Linked DNA regions of Homo sapiens. The protein of the gene in region 2 purifies or fractionates together with the protein of the main gene of each other region. This does not show direct contact. Each region holds a gene or a part of one and is shown on either strand. Other genes may lie near its edges.

The links. Proteins that work in one complex are often made in the same cells at the same time.
Region 1: the proteins of CLDN1 (region 2) and USP40 purify together in Homo sapiens (affinity purification with western blotting; one study listed by BioGRID). This does not show direct contact.

The regions. Positions count from the first base shown.
Region 1 is NC_000002.12:233,560,283-233,563,782, forward strand, and holds part of USP40 (ubiquitin carboxyl-terminal hydrolase 40), read right to left. Parts: intron 2,522-3,500; coding exon 2,454-2,521; intron 985-2,453; exon of another isoform or gene 878-984; intron 752-877; coding exon of another isoform or gene 722-751; exon of another isoform or gene 461-721; intron 1-460. UniProt on the Homo sapiens protein: May be catalytically inactive.
Region 2 is NC_000003.12:190,312,447-190,315,946, reverse strand, and holds part of CLDN1 (claudin-1), read left to right. Parts: intron 1-887; exon of another isoform or gene 888-1,054; intron 1,055-2,910; coding exon 2,911-3,075; intron 3,076-3,500.

The DNA.
Region 1 (3,500 bases), on a different chromosome or scaffold from region 2:
GAAATTTTCCAGGCACAATACTGTATCTCGCTCTGGAGTTCTCAGCACACCCTGCCTCACTTTCTCCTGGCTCCAAGTGAGTTCCTGCCTTACTTGATGTGGTGAGGGCTGGGGCAGACTGAGCAATGTTGCTCAGAGTCTGGTCTGTAGGCTAGACTTTAAGTATTTAAAGGAGAATAAGCATTTAGAAATTGTAATGGCAATTTGACATTCCCATGGCATTTTTATTATATACTAGAAAAGTGCTAATCTGCAACAGATTGGGAATAAAAAGAAATACACAAAAACAGGTCCTTTGCCACACAGGTAGCCTGAGAAGTACTGGGCTAGATCATGAAAGACTCCTAAGAAGTACAAATTTGAGCCTGAACATGGTAAGAAACTTTTGAGTTATGTTTAAGCAGGGAGGAACATGATTAGATATGCACTTTAAATATCACCACAATAACAAACAAAATAATTAACTCATTACTCAATTTATTTCCAGAGTACCAAATTGAAAGAATACTAGCCTCTATTTTTTTTTGTGTGGGGTGGAGAGGTCGGTATTGTTGCAAAAAAAGTGCTTTAAATAGACTTCTGGGGGAAGCTAATGTGGATGTTCTGCAAATATTTCCTTCACCAGAAGAAAGAATAAGCATAGTAAAGAGTGTTACATGTTTATAAAGCAGTAGCAGTATTGTACTTGGAAAACTGATTCTTTCTCGGAAGGCAAATTCCATTACCCATAGGGTATAGGCCAAGTCACTTTCTGGAAATAAAGAGCATATTTGATAATTAATAAAATTATTGCTTTGTGAACAAGCCACTTAATTCCTTCTTTAAAAAAAATTTTCTGAATACGCTAAAACACCCCAGTAAATCATAGATGTAATACCTTTGCATCGGGTTTATCCTTATCTTCAAACAAACCAAGCTCTTCTGGGCCAAGAGAAAATAAAGTTCATATGGAACCAAAAAAGAGCCCGCATCGCCAAGTCAATCCTAAGCCAAAAGAACAAAGCTGGAGGCATCACACTACCTGACTTCAAACTATACTACAAGGGTACAGTAACCAAAACAGCATGGTACTGGTACCAAAACAGAGATATAGATCAATGCAACAGAACAGAGCCCTCACAAATAATGCCACATATCTACAACTATCTGATCTTTGACAAACCTGAGAAAAACAAGCAATGGGGAAAGGATTCCCTATTTAATAAATGGTGCTGGGAAAACTGGCTAGCCATATGTAGAAAGCTGAAACTGGATCCCTTCCTTACACCTTATACAAAAATCAATTCAAGATGGATTAAAGACTTAAACGTTAGACCTAAAACCATAAAAACCCTAGAAGAAAACCTAGGCATTACCATTCAGGACATACGCATGGGTAAGGACTTCATGTCTAAAACACCAAAAGCAATGGCAACCAAAGACAAAATTGACAAATGGGATCTAATTAAACTAAAGAGCTTCTGCACAGCAAAAGAAACTACCATCAGAGTGAACAGGCAACCTACAAAATGGGAGAAAATTTTCGCAACCTACTCATCTGACAAAAGGGCTAATATCCAGAATCTACAATGAACTCAAACAAATTTACAAGAAAAAAACAAACAACCCCATCAAAAAGTGGGCGAAGGACATGAACAGACACTTCTCAAAAGAAGACATTTATGCAGCCAAAAAACACATGAAAAAATGCTCATCATCACTGGCCATCAGAGAAATGCAAATCAAAACCACAATGAGATACCACCTCACACCAGTTAGAATGGCAATCATTAAAAAGTCAGGAAACAACAGGTGCTGGAGAGGATGTGGAGAAATAGGAACACTTTTACACTGTTGGTGGGACTGTAGTTCAACCATTGTGGAAGTCAGTGTGGCGATTCCTCAGGGATCTAGAACTAGAAATACCATTTGACCCAGCCATCCCATTACTGGGTATATACCCAAAGGACTATAAATCATGCTGCTATAAAGACACATGCACACGTATGTTTATTGTGGCATTATTCACAATAGCAAAGACTTGGAACCAACCCAAATGTCCAACAATGATAGACTGGATTAAGAAACTGTGGCACATATACACCATGGAATACTATGCAGCCATAAAAAATGATGAGTTCATGTCCTTTGTAGGGACATGGATGAAATTGGAAATCATCATTCTCAGTAAACTATCGCAAGAACAAAAAACCAAACACCACATATTCTCACTCGTAGGTGGGAATTGAACAATGAGAACACATGGACACAGGAAGGGGAACATCACACTCTGGGGACTGTTGTGGGTTGGGGGGAGGGGGGAGGGATAGCATTGGGAGGTATACCTAATGCTAGATGATGAGTTAGTGGGTGCAGCGCACCAGCATGGCACATGTATACATATGTAACTAACCTGCACATTGTGCACATGTACCCTAAAACTTAAAGTATAATAATAATAATAATAAAAATACCTTTGCATCGGGTTTATCCTTATCTTCAAACAAACCAAGCTCTTCTGGGCCAAGAGAAAATAGAGCTTCTAAAGAAAAAGGTAGAATCAGAGATGCAAATGACATCATTTCATTTTAAAAAATTGTTTTAGAAAGCCAAGACCACCTTTAAGTAAAATCAAGTAGATTCAGAAATATGATTGTGGCAATATTTATACCTTACTCTATACACTTTACTTTCTTGTAACATTTTTAACCAGTGACTCTAAGAAAATAGTGTCATGCTAAGGCTTCAGCATTTCCTAATTCTAGGAAAGGAAAATAATCTTTATGCATAAAACTAAAAACAGTAACATCAGAAATCTTTCATGGCTTCCCACTGTCTATGGCATCAGGTCCCAAAAGCCCAAGAATCTCAGGAAATACAGTAGTGTTGCAGTTTTCCTGCCACATGTAAGGCTAACAAACATCCTTTCGTGGGAAGGATCCTCTTTTACTCTGAGATGCCCTTTTTTTTGGTGTGAAAATGTCTTTTCCGTGTTGAAGGTAATAACAGATGGCAGTGGTCTTATCTGGAAAAAGAAGTTGGCAACCCCATGCGAGTCTCCAGAATTTCTTTATCACCCAACATCTAGGTGATGTGCCACCCAATGGGGCATACCTGAATCTTTTGAGAAGTCTGTATCCGAGCCTAGGTAGGAACTCTTACTGGGAAACTCTGATATACTCTAGGGATACAAGGAATGGGATAAATGTGTCTCCCTATTGAAAAACTATTGCTACCCTAGTGCTTACTGTTAATGAATGTTATATTCTTTCTAAGTGCTGGGACTCGGCAAAAATGAACTACAAATCTACAAGTTAAAGCATAAAACCATACAAAAACTTTTATAATAATCTCCCAGTACTCTCAGCTACATTGTAATGGAGTACAATGGAACCCAATGTAGCCCTATTATTTAAAATACTATTCCAAAATTTCCCCCGCCAGTTCTCTGACAGTCCTTATTCTTTCCAAATTATACCTCCCTGTCAGTCACCATCAGGATTCAGGCTAAGCTATACAAG
Region 2 (3,500 bases):
TCCAGGTGGGTGCAGTAAGGGCCCTGGAGTAGTTTATGCACATGTGTTCCTTGCCTGGGAGATCAGGGGTTTTACACAGTCCGACTCATGAGATTGATGCCCAGTTAGACTTCTCTTGAAGACTACTCTGCGATCTAAGTGCTCAGACCTGCTGGGCAAGTGACCTTCTGTTTTTACTTGAAGAAAAGATCAGTGTGATTATTCTATAAACTGGTCCAGTTTGGGGCCCCACAACTTGAACAAAGAGAAAAACTTGGAGCAAGATCAGAGAAAACATCTAAAATGATTAATAAAAGGTTGAAAAAGAGTATTTATGAAAAAATAAAATGGAGGAGGCTGTGAAATGTAAGATGCTATAGATGCTTGAAGTGCTGTCATAGAAATATTTATTGATTGTGTGATCTCTATGCTGACAGTAAAAATCATGTCGCCCCTTTCTCAAGATAATCATATGACTTCTGATTATACTTAGAATAGAATCCATCTTCTTACCCTAATTTGCGAAGTTCTGCATGACATATGCCTTCTGCCCACCTTGCTAAACTTCGTTTTACTTTGCACATCCTATCATCCTGCGTTAGGATGACCAGCTCTCCCAATTTGTTCAGGATTGAGAGCCTTCTAAGGATGTAGGACTTTAAACTTTAAAGCTAGGACTGTTCCAGGCAAACTGAGATATGTGGTTTCCCTATCCTCCAGACATGGATCATCTTTGTTACTTTCAGCATCTCCTCTTCAGGCATATCTCTGCCTGAAATATTTTCCTGCCAAGTGTAATCTTAGGACCACATCTGAAATCTGTGTTATGTATGGGTTTAGTTATTTTATTTGTTATTTCCCAATAATGATAGCCTTTGCAAAAACCATCCATCAGAAAGAGGACATACCTTAACCATGGAGCCCTTGGTACTTTCCTCTTCATACCACAGTATGGCTTGTGATTCCAAGGAAAAAGTTGTGTAATAACCTTACAAGCAGCTTCAGTTCCTTCCTGGTAAACCTGTGGTCCGTGGAACATGTGTTTTGATCCAGCAGTTCCTCTGCCACCTGGAATCTTGAGATAAGTGTGTGGGTCAGTGTGCATGTGTGCCCATACATGCTTATGAGGAGGTCAGTGTGTGAGGGGAATCAGGAAGTCTCTTTTTTATTTTTAAATGAAATCAAGTAAAACTTAACCTTGGCTTCAAAAATATCTCTCAAATACTGTAAACAATACCTTTGATACTTTTTAGAAAGAGATTATGGCCAGGCGTAGTGGCTCACGTCTGTAATCCCAGAACTTTGGGAGGCCGAGGTGGGCAGACCACCTGAACTCAGGAATTTGAGACCATCCTGGGCAACATGGTGAAACCCATCTCTACTAAATACCAAAAAAAAAAAAAAATTTAGCCAGGCATGGTGGTTCGTGCCTGCAGTCCCAGCTACTCAGGAGGCTGTGGGATGAGAATCGCTTGAGCCCCAGAGGCAGAGGTTGCAGTGAGCCCATATCGCACCACTGCACTCCAGCCTGGGCAACAGAGCAAGACTCTATCTCAAAAAAAGAAAAATAAAGAGATTACTATAATTTTATCATAGATTGCCTGGTTATAGCAAAGACAGAAAATCAGTAAATCAAGATTTAATGAAGTTTTAGAAATATTTAGCTTCAATTATGATTGGTGACCTAAGTTCTCAATCTTGACAATATTAACACTAAGCCTAGGCCTGATTAGATATTGAGATACAAAACCTTTCCAACATCTCAGCCACTTTTAAAGACCATCAAGGAGTCAATTGTTCCAATCCACTGGATAAAGATATAATTTACATTTTACTTATATAATTGAAATATTATTCCAAACAATACTAAGTTTCTTGCTCAAGATAGCACAGTTTGTTAAAGCTAAAAAATACTTATATATGCAAAAAACACTTGTCACATATTATCACTGTCAATGATATAGTGATCTTTAATTAAAGGAGGACATAAATCTAGAATTTAAACAAAATCTTCTAACCAGCATAGTTTCAGTTCATATTTAAAAATCTGTGCCTTTATGCCACAATGATGGCATCAAGTTTTTACTCTTTAAGAAACATAGTGATAATGTCTCAAACTTGACCCTGTTTATTTGATCATGAGTTAGTACACCAAAAATAATGATGGGAAATTAGAAAAAATGGAATCCTGAGAAACACTACATTGAATTATTGTGTGTGCTATTTTACAACATGGCAGCTTAAATAGTTTTAAAAAACTAGTGATGTCTTTGAATATGAATCTACTACTATGTCCCAAGGTAACATCTCAAAGGTTATTTTGTTTAGTTTTAAGAAAATGACTTCTATATTCTTCCCCACTCCTCCTATTCACATCACTGGAGATACAAATACTGCTTATCCAGCCATGATAATCTATAAAACATTTATTTTTTATCTTCCAATTCATCCAGTTTTTCTGAAGCTTATTGATTGGGGTGTAAAGCTGGTGACTAATATCAAAGATATACTGTAAACCATTTTGATTACAAATAGTTAACATCCAGGATAGTATATATGATTGTTACTTAAAATTAAAATTATCTTAGCAAGGATGAAAATCCCTTAGTAAAAAATAAATATGTATTAGTTCAGCTAACCCTATTCAATTAGATCATTAATTAATTTTCCAGTTGATTTTGAATTTAATGTTGGAAACATAAAATATTGGAGTGGAGGGATCTCTTTTTCATCATCCAGCCTGGCATTTGTTTTTCTGGAGAAGATACTGTATATTGGGTTACCAGCGGAAACATCAGTATGACTGGGGTCTCTAGATTCCTAGTCCAGTTTTCTCTCTTCCATACAACAGTGACATATACTTGGTCTTCTTCCATTTTTCTCTTGTTGGTCCAAGCATATTTTTACATGTTTTAAAATGTTTTCTGCCAGGCACATTGCAAGCAACCCGTGCCTTGATGGTGGTTGGCATCCTCCTGGGAGTGATAGCAATCTTTGTGGCCACCGTTGGCATGAAGTGTATGAAGTGCTTGGAAGACGATGAGGTGCAGAAGATGAGGATGGCTGTCATTGGGGGTGCGATATTTCTTCTTGCAGGTAATAGAGGCTGTGCCCCCCTTTCACCTTACTAACCTGTTCCTGGTATGATTTGAAATCTATTACGTTGGATTCATTATACTTGATTTCAGTCTCTAAGGCAAACTGCAAACATAGACCTGAAGTCCAGTTGACTTTCATGTTCTCAAACACAAACTAAATGAAAATGTGAGAGCTCTGCTCACATCTGACAGGTCTATTGGTTGAAGTTTCAAGTGGCAACTGGTTTGTTAGAACCAGTCTCTTCCAGTGAAGAAAGTTGTTCACTATTTAGCAAACGCTAAGGAGGAAGTTCATGTAATTCAGATAATTCCTATGGTGTCTCCACAGATACTATGTGGAAAAGATGGGGAGTAGTGAGAGAAAACACAAGAATATGTGAACCCTTCAGGTCTGTGAGGGATGGAAGGATTGGGATTATTGGA